Linked DNA regions of Homo sapiens. The protein of the gene in region 2 interacts with the protein of the main gene of each other region in a pairwise test. Each region holds a gene or a part of one and is shown on either strand. Other genes may lie near its edges. The genes, in order: GMCL2, LIMS4, ARID5A and KRTAP11-1.

The links.
Region 1: the proteins of LIMS4 (region 2) and GMCL2 interact in binary tests that used the Homo sapiens proteins (3 or more experiments, as listed by UniProt).
Region 3: the proteins of LIMS4 (region 2) and ARID5A interact in binary tests that used the Homo sapiens proteins (3 or more experiments, as listed by UniProt).
Region 4: the proteins of LIMS4 (region 2) and KRTAP11-1 interact in binary tests that used the Homo sapiens proteins (3 or more experiments, as listed by UniProt).

The regions. Positions count from the first base shown.
Region 1 is NC_000005.10:178,184,466-178,188,831, forward strand, and holds GMCL2 (germ cell-less protein-like 2), read right to left. Parts: upstream 2,907-4,366; 5' UTR 2,835-2,906; coding exon 1,254-2,834; 3' UTR 40-1,253; downstream 1-39. UniProt on the Homo sapiens protein: Possible function in spermatogenesis. Probable substrate-specific adapter of an E3 ubiquitin-protein ligase complex which mediates the ubiquitination and subsequent proteasomal degradation of target proteins.
Region 2 is NC_000002.12:110,448,758-110,452,572, forward strand, and holds part of LIMS4 (LIM and senescent cell antigen-like-containing domain protein 4), read right to left. Parts: intron 3,262-3,815; exon of another isoform or gene 3,258-3,261; coding exon 3,107-3,257; intron 2,497-3,106; coding exon 2,404-2,496; exon of another isoform or gene 1,598-2,403; intron 1,111-1,597; coding exon 1,062-1,110; intron 394-1,061; exon of another isoform or gene 44-393; intron 1-43.
Region 3 is NC_000002.12:96,542,971-96,546,785, reverse strand, and holds part of ARID5A (AT-rich interactive domain-containing protein 5A), read right to left. Parts: intron 1-3,815. UniProt on the Homo sapiens protein: DNA-binding protein that may regulate transcription and act as a repressor by binding to AT-rich stretches in the promoter region of target genes.
Region 4 is NC_000021.9:30,880,008-30,883,252, forward strand, and holds KRTAP11-1 (keratin-associated protein 11-1), read right to left. Parts: upstream 1,574-3,245; 5' UTR 1,518-1,573; coding exon 1,026-1,517; 3' UTR 637-1,025; downstream 1-636. UniProt on the Homo sapiens protein: In the hair cortex, hair keratin intermediate filaments are embedded in an interfilamentous matrix, consisting of hair keratin-associated proteins (KRTAP), which are essential for the formation of a rigid and resistant hair shaft through their extensive disulfide bond cross-linking with abundant cysteine residues of hair keratins.

The DNA.
Region 1 (4,366 bases), on a different chromosome or scaffold from region 2:
GGGTTTTTTGGTCCATTTCATATAAGAGCTTACTTAATCTTTTTCCAAATGCGCATTTATTATTTGCACAGATACATACAAATTATTCCCATTTTAAAAGCCAGAATAAAAATATACATTAACCACAGAAGTACTTACTCTAACTGGAAAGAAAATGAACATGGCTCTATTCAAAACAGCAGTAAACACAAAAGGTCAACATATATAAATCATGACAAGTGTACATCTTATTTTTGACAAAAATAAGTTCCATTTTTACATTAATGCGTCATCAGCTTCTATGTTAGATCCTCTGACCTTATTTACATTTACTATGAAATTGCTGTTAGCATGTCACTCAAAGCCACTCATCTCAGAGGGTATCAAGTCCTGAGCTTAAGTAGGAAACAAAACTCCCAACTAAAATTTGAACATAAATAATTGTAAAGATCAGAGAATATTAAAATATTTAAAAGTATAATATCTGGTACATAAATAACTCAAAAACTAATAATAAAGGTGTACAGACTGTCAAAGAAAAGACCATGTAAGACAAGAAATATCCCTGGAATCAAACTGATTTTTCACGCATTCAAGATCATTTGAAGGTGTGAAGCTAACTTTCATTGTTCTTAAAATCCTAGGAAAGCCAAATTTTAAAAAATAGCATATGACAATGCTTAAGTTTAAAAAAAGTTTCTCAGCTTAGTCTCCAAACCAGGAAGAAAGTATTTAATGATTAAAAACAAGTATGAACTGGAAAGATATTAGACTAAAAGGAGGAATCATAATGAGCAGGTAAAAATATTAAAGGAAAGCTTTAAATGCCCCAGCTCAAAAGAGCATTTCTAATTGGCCATCCAAATTATTCTTTTAGATTATTTTAGCCAAATAAAAATAAATTTACAGATGGATAACTGAGGTCCACTAACATAAGGTAGAAACAAAGTTTAAGCTAAAAATTAAATCTATATTTTGTTGCAGATAAATGTGAGATTTACCTACAGTCATTTTCTGCTGATGCTGAATTAAAAGCATGAGTTGACATCGTACTGACAGAAATGGTTTGACAGATATTTTCTTGGCTTTAAAATGATTTTTTTTGTATATGCATAGAAATGCAATGAGGATAAGAATAGTCTTCTGTATTGTCCGTACAGTTCATAAGGCCTTTGTCATTGTTAGTCAACTTAGATGTGAATATCAGTAGGGCCATTAAATTAAAGCTGGCCTGAAAGTTTTCAAAGTGCTACTGTTTCCAACTGATGAGATCTTCAGTTTTCTGGATTTTCTGGGTGACGATTATTTTCAATTCCTTTTTCTGGTGATATATACAAGAAGTTACAGCAGATATATAAAGGGAAGGTCAGAAACCTGCTGTCCAAGTTCATCACCACTTGTTCCTGATCCTTTTTAAGTATAAGTATTTGATAGCCAGTTGTTCTACTACATACTAGTTTTCCACTACTATCAAAAGAAGCCAAGCGTAATCTAAATGCTATGCTCCTTCGAGGCCGTAAACTGACAGACCCGCTGCGTGGCTGATTCAGTGTATTGCGTTTGAAAATGATGTATCCATTGGTGTAAATTACAAGTAGGTCAAAGCCGAAGTTAAAACCCGTCCAACACCAGTAGTATTCACCATCTTTGGCAAGCTTTCTACCACACCTCATGCTATTTCCCTCTAGGTCTTCTTTATTGATTTCTTGAGGCCCTACCTCACGGTCTTGTTCTGCCCGCAGCATAGCAAACCACTGCTGTTTATACACAGAAGACAGCCATTCTGAAGGTACTATACCATCTTGTTCAATAATTCTTGCAGAAGCTAGGTCACTGATAATATATTGTAACCTTAAATGTCTGAATACTGACACAAATGGTTTTCCTGGTTCAGTTTCAAGAAAGGCCATACCTTCAAAATCTTTTCTCTGTTTAGAAAACCAGACATCTGTTTCTGTCAAAAGCTGTTTTAAAGATCCATTCCAAGAAGGCACAAGTTGAAGGAACATCCACTTTTTTAGAGTGGTGTATACATCCATCTCCACTTGCATCACAAATAAGTTAGAGGAACCAATGAGCTGTTTCATGACATTTATACCGAGTTCTTTAAAAAGTTTAACATTCTGGTGAGTCATCAAATTGTTTAGAAGCCATTCAAGGCACTTTTTCTTTACAGAATCTAATCCATAGATCTCTACTGATGTGTAATAACCGCATACAGTTTTCACATTAATTGTTTCCTTCATTGTCTCACCACACTGCTGTATTAAACCATCCAGCTGCAGCATACAAGCTGCTGCCAAAATGGCAACAACTCGACTGGGTTTTATCAAGACATCATCTCGATACAGTGAACCAAACGCAACCTGCAGTGCGTCTACATCAATGTTCTGGTCAGGAATCTCCAGTTCAATAATATTCATGCTGGATTCTTTCCAAGAACCACTGAACATACTAGAAAAGTAGCCAGATTGACATAAATATATTTTGTGTAATCGCCATTCTTCTCCTAGAGCACAAATCTTAATGTCACTGTTTTCACCATTCAAAAATAATGTTTGATAAATATATTTGGATGTACTCCTTAATTTTTTCCTTGCAGGGGTGTTGAGGAGCGGCTGCTGCTTGTCCCCCTCCTCCTCATGCTCCTCCCTGTGCGAGTCCGGGTCACAGTAGCGGCAGGCCCCGCTGCTCCGCTTGCGCTTGTGACTGCCCGGGCAGTAACAGAAGCCGTAGCTCGCCGCATCGTCTCCAGTGTCCGGCCTCCGGGCCGAGCCCCTGGCCCTGGCACCCTGTTCCTGCTGGGCAAGGGCTCGCCTCGGCTGGCCCAGCACCCGGCTGCTCGACGATCCCATGGGTCACGGCTCCCCAGGACTTCAGGGAGCCCAGAGGAGGGGGTCTCTGGCCATGGCCCGGCCGCCGCCGCCAGCCTTCCCCGAGCACAGGTGCCTACACCGCCACCTTCTCACGCGCAGCCCCAACCGTTGCAGCGGACACTGCCGCCTCCAACCTCCGCACCCCTCCCCCACAATTTTTTTTTTTTTTTTTTTTTGAGACGGAGTCTTGCTCTGTCGCCCAGGCTGGAGTGCAGTGGCGCGATCTCGGCTCACTGCAACCTCTGCCTCGCGGGTTCAAGTGATTCTCCTGCCTCAGCCTCCTGAGTAGCTGGGATTACAGGCGCCCGCCACCACACCTGGGTAATTTTTGTATTTTTAGTAGAGGCGGGGTTTCCCCATGTTGGCCAGGCTGGTCTCAAACTCCTGACTTCAGGTGATCCTCTTACCTTGGCCTCCCAAAGTGCTGGGACTACAGGCGTGAGCCACTGCCTCCGGCCTAAAACAATTTCTTTTAGAGACAAGGTTTCACTGTGTTTCTCCGGGTGGTCTTGAACTCCTTGGACAGCATTCTTCATTGCTGGAAGCAATTCTCATCTGGCAGCCAAAACCAAGGTCCGTTTTAGAAGGACCACTTCCCTAGGAGCAAAGTTTTATTTGCAAGACCTGACAAAGGAAAATGTGTGTACCAGACGCTTGAGCCTAACCAGTCCAATGTAAATTTGCGACCAGGCACAAAAATAAAATAAAATAATAAAATAAAATAGGCCAGGCTCGGTGGCTCATGCCTATAATCCCAGCACTTTGGGAGGCCAAGGTGGGTGGATCACATGAGGTCAGGAGTTTGAGACTGGCCTGGCCAACATGGTGAAACCCCATCTCTACTAATAATATAAAATTTAGCCAGGTGTGGTGGTGCACGCCTGTAATCCCAGCTTTTCGGGAGGCTGAAATGGAGAACTGCTTGAACCCAGGAGGCAGAAGTTGCAGTGAGCCAAGATCGCATCATTACATTCCAGCCTGGGCGACAAGAGCGAAATTCCGTCTCCAGAAAAAAATAATAAGATAAAATAAAATAGAATAAAGACTTGAAGTCAAGCCAGGTACGGTGGCTGCTCACACCTGTAATCCCAGCACTTTGGGAGGCCGAGGTGGGCAGATCACGAGGTCAGGAGTTCAAGACCAGCCTGGCCAATATGGTGAAAGTGACCATGGCTGGGTGAAATGATCACTGCAGCCGGTCTGGGAAGGCAGAAGCAAGCAGAGGGCCTGGGCAGGATAGGCAGGGATTCTCTGTGGGGAGGATCTGTGGAGACAGGGGCAGCAGGATTAGGATGTCGGAATTGAGGAGGCTTTTGTCCTTGGGGGATGGAGTGGAGAAGTGGGGCATGGTCCTGGAAATTTGCCCTGCAGCCTCACCAGGCCATCTGGAAGCTACTTGTTGGGAACCCCGTGTGTGTAAAGGGCTGACCCAGGCCCAGACCCGGAGGAACTGGAGAAGGGCACACACTGAGACCACCCGAGGGGTGTGCTGGAACTGCTTGGCCAGTCCT
Region 2 (3,815 bases):
TTTTCTCTAAATATTTTTGATCCATAGTTGGTTGAATCCACGGATGTTTGGATCCAGCCCCTGGATACGGAGGGCTGACTTTAATCTTCCCCCATCCTTAAGTATCCTGTGAAGTTATAAATGATGTGTGCCATGTCTTACACCAGCAACTGTGCCCCCTTGGCCTGGGCACATGTGGCAACTGTCCATGCATCATGTTGTTTAGGTGAGCTTGCTGTTTCTGTCCCTACTGCTGTTGGCCCAACTAGGAAATATGAACTAGGTAAATAATTTTCAAAAATCCAGACATTAACTTATTTGCCTCTGTAGGAGTCTTTTTTCCAGAGCTGATGATAACAAGACAGTTTCCTCTGCAGCTTCTTTCACCTGGCATCTATTTCACAGAGGAGGGAGGTAAGTTTTATTTTCAATGGCACTAAAGATTGTTTTCCTGGATTGTTTTCACAAACTGCACATGAACAGTTTCAAAAGTATTTCCTGAATTAGGTGATGTCTGCAGGCAGCCATGAATCATGCTGAAAACAGTATCGTTCAAAACTTTGCCAGGAAGTCTCTGGCAGAAGTGTGTTAGCGAGTCTTAGCAAACACAGCTGCTTCCTTTCTGTTCCAATCAATCAGCCCAGCCTAATTACCACAGTACAAGGGTGGTAAGTCCTAGATATGCTTGCTGATAACTGCCAGCTTTTAGCATGTGCAGGTTAAAGTGCCTCTTGCTAACTACGATAGCAGATTAAACTCTTCCTAATAAACGTTGTTCTAGAGCTTCCTGAAACTGGACACAGAAACAGGTCTTAGGGTCCACCAGGGACAGTTCCCATGATTGCTGGCATACAACACTACAGCAGTGGCCAAAAGTAGTGTCATAAATCAGTAACAAATCCAACTCTTTGATATTATCATCTTACTGCTACAGATTACTTGGAAAATACGCCAAAGATAGAGAAAAAGTAACTGATAACGATCACATTTCAAACCATAGCAATCACCAACCTGAATTTCCACATTCCCCAAGTGTTTTTGTGTCAAAGTGGCACCAATCTAAAACTCACACAGATACTTACCATCACCTTCTATAACACGATTGCAGTGGAAGCAAACATCACCAAATAGCTGAAAATAAAAAAAGGTGGTCAAAGTTCAAGATGTGTTAGAATTTTTAGAACACTGAACATTTAAAAATAGCTGGCTATCTAAATTGAGGATTTATCACTACTAGAGAAAATTAGTAAAAGTTCTTTGACAAGTTTTTACTTCTTACAATGAAAGTAATTCACTCTCATCAATTAAAAGAAAAACTTCCCGGATGACAGTTTGAACACCCAAATAAGTGATGCAAAATATAGAAATCTGTGAGTCCATATGGATAAGAAATAGATAAATGAATAAACCTATAGACGGGAGAGGAGGTGGGTTCTTGCTCAGGCAGAGCGCTGAGGACCAGACTATGGGTGGAGGGCATGGGGCTGGAGAAGTATTGTTTGCAGCTGGCGCAGAGACAAGAATCATCAAGGGGTGCTGAATCTAGGGCGGGTTGATGAGGAACAGGACATTTCCATGGTCATAGAATGATTGCCCACAGATTGCTTCTTTCTTACAGAGGAGGGAAGGAAATTGTAATTCACAGTGATGTTATCAGCCAGCACCATGCCTGGGAGATCACCAGTGCAGGAGAGGTATAAAATGCTCCAGGGGCAAGGTTCTGAGAAGATGCCCTGCCACTGTATGAGGCCACAACCTGCTGTGTATAACCTCATCTAAGCACAGAGAAGCACCAGGTGAACCCAAGTGGAAAGTAGTCTATTAAAAAGGGGTTAGGGGCCCTCTGCATCCCTCCAAAATGTCAATGTCATCAAAAATTTTAAAAGACTCTGGAAACGTTCCAGATTTAAGAAAGCTAAAGAAACATCACAGCCCTAGGCTGGGTCCAGTCTGGGAGTGGAAAAAATGCTGTGAGGATATTACTGACTCAAGTGATAAAACTGGAATAAATGGGTTAAAGTACGGTATCAATATTGATAACTACAATTATGTTAGAGAGTCCCATATTCTTGGGAAATATACACTGAAGTATTTAGGGGTAAAGGAGTATGATGAACTTATTGGCAAATGCTTTAGAAACAGCCATCGTACTTGTATATAATATTTATGTAAGTATGTGTTTTACACAGGAAGACTGAGCGTGGGAAATGATAAAGCAAACTGTGGACTTGAATGAAAGACATACAGGTATTCTTTGTATTTTTATAGTTAGCTTCTGAGTCTGAAATTATTTCCCAAATAAAAAGTTAAAAACAAATCTCTACTGAACAATGTACATCTTCCAAGAGATTTCCTTGTAGCTAAACTACTGATAAGCTTAGGTTCATAAAAGTCTATCTAGCATCCAGTGACTAAGGTCAATACCTGGTTATAGTGAGTTTCACAATACGCCAGGCCTTTCCTCTCATAATGGCGATGTCCAAGAAAGGGTTTCTCACACTTGGCACAAACAAAATGCTGAAAAAAAATTGCTATAGGTCATTTTTGAATTGCCATATTTTATATCTAATAAAGTAAACACCAGAGTTAACCTATTTTCAGAGAAGATGAAGGAAAGTTTGAGACAGTCATTTCATTTGGCCATAGGTGGCCCCATAACATAATACTTCTGCAGTTGTAATTCAGGTGTCTGTCTTTGAAGGTTACTTTAAGACACAGCCTATTATAATAGCCCAAAAAGAGAATAGAGGTGAGCATCTCAGTAGCACCTATAAAGGAGGAGCTGCTGCTGGATACAGACCATGGCACTTCCTGCTTCAAGAAGGCTTTAGGAGCAAAAGTGCACATCTTGTATCATTACTGAGACATTCACAAAAGCAGTGTACCTTCTATATTCTTAGCTGTCAGCAAAGTCAATTGTCTTTAAAATGTCCACGTTTAATCTTTAGAGTCTCCTAATCTTGCCAGGACACCTGAATCATGAAGATTTGAAAGTACTGGTTATCCCTGAATCATGGAGATTTGAAAGGATTGGTTACCCCTTAATCATGGAGATTTGAAAGTATTGGTTACTCCTTAATCATGGAGATTTGAAAGGATTGGTTACCCTTTACCATTTAGAACTCACCTCCACATGCCACTGCTTGCCCATGGCGTTCACCACACGCCCTTCGATGGGCCGTCGGCAAGCGCCACAGATGGGGACCCCCATTTTATCATGGCATGGCAGGCAGTATAGCTCCCCTTTCAGCTCCTGTGCATCGGCAGTCAGATCCTTCCTGTCTGTGAGAAAGACACCCAGCTTAATACTAAGAGAGAAAAATGGCCAACCGATGGGGCTAGCACACTTTTTAGAAGGTTTTTAAAGATATTACTATGACAATCCCTGCAAATTTCTTTTTTCCCCTTTAGAGGTGATCAGAATAACCTGAATTAATAGGCCCGAACAGGTTTCAGACTCCTACCAAAACATCTGTATCTTAAAAGGATAAGATGCAAGACTAGGTCAGATACATACCACCACACCAGTCATATTCATAATTTCCTTCTTGTATTATCACATTCCATTTTAGTCCATTTGTCTTCCTTTAAAAGCTACAGGGAATAATCACAGTGCTGAGGGTAGACTCAGTAATACTACCTGCTATGGTGTGACTGTGTCCCCAAAGTTCATGATCCCCAATGCAGAGGTGTTGAGAGGTAGGACCTCTAAGGGGTGATTACATCATGAAGGCTCTGCCCTCACAGATGGATTAACACTGTTACTGAGGGGGTGGGTTCCTTATAAAAGGATGAGTTCAGCCTCCTTCCTTCTCTTCCTTCCCCCCTCCTCTTCC
Region 3 (3,815 bases), about 14 Mb from region 2:
TATCTGACCTTTCCCTGAGCATCTGCAGAGTTCTAACTGCCCTAATAAGGCCACATGCTCTCCTCACCTACAAGGGTCCTGGTGACCCCTCAGGTCTCTGCTGACAAGTGCCTTCCTCTGGGTGGCCTCCTCTGGCCCCTGGCCACGGGCAGCTCCTCCCTCGCCCTAGGCTACTCACAGCCATCCTGGCTGAACTGCCTGTGGCTCCTGGGGCTCCCTGATAGTTCGGTGAGGCTTCCCATACCCCACACAGCAGGTGCCAAGCTGGAATGAGCAAGGCTCACAACAACCCTGCGTGGTGGGCAGGAGAAGCCATGGGCTGTATTTTACTAAGAACCACCATGTGCTGATGGTTGCAAAAACGCAACACCTCTGCCACTGCAAAAACCACAACCACTGGAAACTGCCTGAGGCCACACAGCAGGCTGGCAGCAGATACCAGACCAGGAACCCACATCTTCTGACAACCTTTTCTTTCTGTCCTTTGTTCTTTTGTTAATCAAGTATGAATTGGTTCACTCCCTCCCAGGACATCCTTATTGTTAGGAACCTATGAGATTTCCCTTCCATCCCAGACAGAAAAAGAATCTCCTCAGGAACAAGAAACCCAAACCAGCGTAAGCCAGGGGCCAGTGGTACTCAGAGGCACAGGGTAGAATCCTTGGCCACTGAGTGGTCCTGCTTTGGTAGGTGTTCTTATGTCTTCCCTCCATGTTGATGGCTGCTGACTGATTTCAGGGTGGTGGTTTCTTGGGCTGGGGTGACTGTGGCAATTTCTTAAAATAAGACAACAATGAAGTTTGCCACATCCATTAACTCTTTTTTTTTTTTTGAGTCAGAATCTTGCTCTGTTGCCCAGGCTGGAGTGCAGTGGCGTGATCTTGGCTCACTGCAATCTTCGCCTCCCAGGTTCAAGTGATTCTCCTGCCTCAGCCTCCCGAGTAGCTGGGACTACAGGTGCGTGCCACTAAGCCCGGCTAATTTTTGTATTTTTAGTAGAGACGGGGTTTCACCATATTGGCCAGACTGGTCTCAAACTCCTGACCTCATGATCCACCCACCTCGGCCTCCCAAAGTGCTGGGATTACAGGCATGAGCCACTGCACCTGGCAACTCTTCCTTTCATGAAAGACTTCTCCATGGCATGCATGTGATGCTATTTTTGACAGCATTTTATCCACAGCAAAACTTTCAAAACTGATGTCCCTCCTCTCAAACCCTGCTGCTGCTTTATCAACTAAGTTTCTGTAACATTCTAAATCCTTTGTTGTCATTTTGACAATGTTCACAGCATCTTCGCCAGTAGATTCCACCTCAAGAAGCCACTTTAGGATGGGCGCGGTGGCTCACGCCTGTAATCCCAGCACTTTGGGGGCCAAGGTGGGTGGATCACCTGAGGTCAGAAGTTTGAGACCAGCCTGGCCAACGTGGCGAAACCCTGTCTCTACTAAAAACACAAAAGTCAGCTGGGTGTGGTGGCAGGTCCCAGTAGTCCCAGCAACTCAGGAGGCTGAGGCAGGAGAATCCTTTGAACCTAGGAGGCGGAGGCTGCAGTGAGCTGAGATTACTCCACTGTACTCCAGTCTGGGCGATGGAACAAGACTCTGTCTCAAAAAAAAAAAAAAAAAAGAAAAAGAAAAAGAAAAGAAAAGGAAAGAAAAAAAAAGAAGAAAAAAAGTCACTTTCTTTGCCCACCCATAAAAAGCAACTCCTCATCCACTCAAGTTTGATCATGAGATTGCAGCAATTCAGTCTCATCCTCAAGCTCTGCTTTCTAACTCTAGTTCTCTTGCTGGTTCCACTGCATCTGCAGTGTCTTCTCCACTGAAGTCTTGAAGCCCTCAAAGTCATCCAGGAAGGTTGGAATCAAATTCTCCCAAATGCTTGGATATTTTGACCTCCTCCCACGAACCACAAATGTACCTGAAATGCTCTCCGGAGGTTTTCAATGTATTTTGCCCATCAGAGGAATCACTATCTATGGCAGCTACAGTCTTACAAAATGTATTTCTTAAATAATAAGACTTGAAACTTAAAATTACTCCTTGATCCTTGGCTCTAGAATAAATGTTGTGCTAGTAGGCATGAAAACAACATGCAGCTCCTGGTACATTTTCATCAGCGCTCTTGCATGACCGGTTGCCTTGTCAATGAACAATAATATTTTGAAAGGAATCCTTTTTTCTGAGCAGTAGGTCTCAACAGTTGGCTTAAAATACTCAGTAAACCATGTTATAAACAGATGTGCTGTCATCCAGGCTTTGTTATTTCATTTTTAGAACACAGAGTGAGTAGATTTAGCATAATTCTTAAAGGTTCTAGGTTTTTTGGAATGATAAATGAGCACAGGCTTCAACTTAAAGTCACCAGTACCAGCTGCATTAGCCCCTAACAAGAGAGTCAGCCTGTCTTTTGAAGCCATGCATTGACTTCTCCTTAGCTATGAAAGTCCTAGATGACATCTTCTTCTGATACAAAGCTGTTTCATCTACATGGAAAATCTGTGGTAGTGTGGCCACCTTCATCAGTGATCTTAGCTGGATCTTCTGGATAAATTGCTGCAGCTTCTACACCAGCCCTGGTTGATTCGCCTTGCACTTTTATGTGATGGTGATGGCGTCTTTCCTTAAACCTCATGAAGCAACCTCTGCTAGCTTCCAACTTTTCTTCTGCAGCTTCCTCACCTCTCTCAGCCTTCACAGCATTGGAGATTTAGAGCCTTGGTCTGGATTAGGCTTTGTCTTAAGGGAATGTTATGGCTTGTTGGATCTTCTATCCAGACTTCTCAAACTTTCTCCATTATCAGCAATAAGGCTGTTTTGCTTTACCATGCGTGTTCACTGGAATAGCACTTCTGATTTCCTTCAATAACTTTTCCTTGGCATTCACAACTTGACAAACTGGTGCAAGAGGCCTAGCTTTCGGCCTATCTGGGCTTTCGACCTGCCTTCCTCACTAAGTTTAATTATTTCTAGTTTTTTTATTTAAAAGTAAAGACCTGTAACTCCTCCTTTCACTTGAACACTTAAAGACCATTGTAGGACTGTTAATTGGCCCAGTTTCAATATTGTTGTGCCTTAGGCAACAGGGAGGCCAAAGAAGAGAAAGAGAGGAAGAGAGATGGGGAATGCTGGTCGATGGAGCAGGTGGAGGAGGAGCACACACAACATTTATCGATTTAGTTCACTGTCTTTGTGGGTGGGGTTCATGGTACCCCAAAACAATGACAATAGGAACATCAAAGATCACTGATCACAGATCACCATAACAGATATAATAATGAAAAAGTTTGAAATGTTGTAAGAATCACCAAAATGTGACACCGAGACACAAAGTGAGCACGTGCTGTTAAAAAATGGCATCGATAGACTTGCTCGATGCTGGGTTGCCACAAACCTTCAATGAGTAAAAAATGCTGTATTTGTGAAGTACAATAAAGCAAAGCATGATAGAGCAAGGTGTGCCTGTACATTCTCTCCCTCAGTCCCGGAGGAATTCCATTTTAAAGAGGGGGAATCTGAAGCCAGAATGGTTATGGGTAAGTTGCTTGCCTCCCTGGGGGACCAGGATTCAAAACAAAGTCTGATTCTGGTCCAGTGGCTGCTGTGGTTATCAACATTTGCAAGGCCTTCATGAAGAGTCCAAGTAAGCCTGGAGAGAAACCAGTCCTAAGGCTTGTCAAAGAGAAAGAGACCAGGGCCACCCTCTTGGGCTAGCCTCTGACCCACCAGTCTCCAGAAATCCTGGGTACTAACAAGTGACCCAGCAGACTGATGCCTTTCCAACCAAGTCCTCTGTGACTCTGTGCTTCAGTC
Region 4 (3,245 bases), on a different chromosome or scaffold from region 2:
CCCAGCTACTCTGGAGGCTGAGGCAGGAGAATCACTTGAACCCAGTAGGCAGAGTTTACAGTGAGCCAAGATCGTGCCACTGCACTCCAGCCTGGGCGACAGAGTGAGACTCCATCTCAAAAAAAAGAAAAAAAAGAAAAAGAAAAAGAAAGAAAGAAAAGAAAAGAAAAATCATAGCCCTTACTTCACCGCACAGCTGAAGACTCTCTCTGAACAAGTAAAATATAAGATAATCCTTGGTTTGGTCACAGGGCATAATGATTAAGCCCATATTCTAGGCTCAGGAAAAAAAAAATCAGACCCTGATCAGCAAAGACTCTTGCAAACAAGGAGCTCTGTTGAGAAAACTAAATACCACCTGTTCTCACTAATAAGTAGGAGCTAAACATTAGGTACACGTGGACATAAAGATAAAAACAATAGACACTGGCAACTGGAAGAGCGGGGAGTGAGGAAGAGGAAAAGGGTTGGAAAACTACCTATTGGGTACTATGTTCAATACCTGACAGATGGGTTCAATCATACCCCAAACCTCAGCATCACACAGTATACCCCTGTAGCAAACCTGCACATGTACCCCGCAAAAACTAAATTAAAAGTTGAAATGTTTAAAAAAGAATTCTGCTGAGACATACATTTGCAATGCCAACTAATGCAGGTTTATTGAGAAATACATGGTGAGACAAGCTCTGTTTTTGTGAGACACAAAAGCAGAGGCCAGGAGATACAGCAGCAAGGTGAAAACATGTCAAAAGCATCAGAGACTGGGGTGTGGATGGTAAAGCTTCTGGACACATCCAGAGGCATACACAGCACCAGTGAGCAACCCTTAAAACAAGCTTAGGGCTGGCCAGAAAAATTTTAGAGTGCTAAAGACAGCGTGTGCATGGATAGTAGCCAGCAGTCAGGCGGTCACAAGAAGGGTCAGCTATGAAGAGCTATTCAGGGACAAGCAGCATGCTGGAAGATCCTGGAAACAGCTGGCAGGTCGTGGAGTCTTGATTCGCTCACTGGCTCCTACACACTTAGCAGGTTCTTCGGCAGCTGGACACGCAGGACTGCTGATACGTCCTGGAGACCCCACAGGCTGGCTGGCAGACAGTAGAGACTCCTCCCACTGGTTGGCAGACAGTAGAGATGCCGCCCACTGGTTGGCAGACACTGGAGATGCCTCCCAGGGGCTGACATCCACTAGAGACAAAGGTGAGCGGCCGGCTGTAGGTAGTTGAGCAGGGGTTGGAAATACAGGTAGTTTGTCGAGAGCAAGTCACCTGGCAAGGGTTGGAGACACATGAAGTTCGCCGGTAACAGGTTGGCTGGCAAGCAGTGGGCTCACAGCAGGTCTCTTGACAGTGGTCCAGGAGCCAAGAGCCAGTCTGGAAGGAACTGGGCAAACAGATGCCGCCCAGGCAGTCAGCATCAGTGGTGGAAGTCGTGGTAACTTGGGCCACTGGAACAATGCAGCGTCCTCCAATGGGCCTGGAAGAGCAATTTCTTGTGGAGCAGTTGAAGGACATGATGTCAGACAGAGGGCTGCAGGTAGCTTGCTGAAGTTACCTCCTGAGTTGTGAATGTCACTCCAGACTCCTGAGCTTTTATATATCCTTGCTGGTGGGTGGGGCTCTCTCCCTGGTCTCCGTGGCTTCTTTGGCTCAGACCAGTTTGCCTTAGAACATCTTGTGAATCTACACATTAATTGTCTCTTAAGAAGCCTTCACCCTCATAAAGAAAGTTTAGTAGTTTGGTAACTAAATCACAAGTCTTCTGTACTGTACTTAGTCTGATTAAGAAGGCTGGTTGGCAGCTTCAAAGCTATTGGTCATCCCAGCCCACACGTTGTCCCTCATTCATCTTGCTTATGATGAGTGTTGACCTGACACTCATCCTACCAAAGATGCCACCATCCTACCATCACACACTCTCTCCCTCCCTACCAGGACCAATTACAAGCCCATGCCCTGTTTCATTTGTCACTGGACTTAATATCTTTTAAACATAACTTAATCAGTCACTCTACCACACCTAACGGAGCTCCTCATTGGGAAGGTGCCTCCTTGAATATGTTTCAAGACAACAGTGACAACACTTGACAGGAACAAAGGGCACAGAGACTTGTATCCAAAGTCTGAGCTGGCTCTCAAAATTAATCAACTGACTCAAACAAGATGCCCGTGGGAAGGCTAGAGGGCAGTGGGACCCACCCTTTATGTTCAACCAACAAAGCAAATTAGAAGCTAACTAAGTGCAACTGTATTTGTAGCCAAGACCTTTTCTAAGTAAATTGGATGAGCTTTATTCCTAAAATGTTTAATTTAATAACAGTGGATAATAGTGACTCCTGGGTCTCATTAATATGCCAGTGGAAAAGGCTTAGTTAATTTTTAAAATTATCATAATGTTAATTTGAAAGGGTACAGTGTCTTTCTCCCAATTTGTTCAATATGTTCAAAAGATATTTATTTTCACACATATAGATAGAATGCATTTTAATTATGGACAAACTAAAGGCTCTTCAAGGTCATTGTCTCCATCAGGGATAAGGGGGAGGCAGAGCTGGGGGAAGCAGGCACTTAATCAATGTTTGGTAATGAAGAGATGTGTGAAGAGTGTGCTATATTTAATTATTCTTTTTATGCTTGGGGAAGCTATAGGGATATCACTCTATTTTATTTCATCTCACTACAATATAATGAATTTTAAACACCAGAATGATGGCTCGTTTGGGTCCACCTGAACATAGATGAATAAACTGCCTCAACTCTGGCAAAATAAGCAACTTCAACATCGCTTCAAGTGGTCAGTGGTATTTCTGTCCCAAAACAGCTGTAGCATCTGACTCATTTTTAAACTAGCTTACATGAGGGAGCGTAAGGGAATAAAATGGATTTCCATGTATTTGAGGGCTACAGGTAAGCTATGTTTTAAATATCCACAAAGCAAACAGCGTTATGTCAGGACTCATCAGAAATCCCTAATTGGAAACTAACGACACACCCAAAGAAGAGGGTGCTGTGAGCAATAGCATGATTCCCAGATATCAGACCTCAATGTCCTGACCCTCCCTCAGTGACTCACCATGTGTTCCCAGGAACGGGGTGAAATTAATGAGATGACTACTTTCCACAATGTTGTGGCTATGCTCTTCCCACCACAGAGGGTATCTTAGTTGGTGTTTGAAGGCCTGAGTCCTTGGCCCTAGGGCCTGGCTTGCATGTTGTAAAATGGATTACTAGTTTACAGGCTTC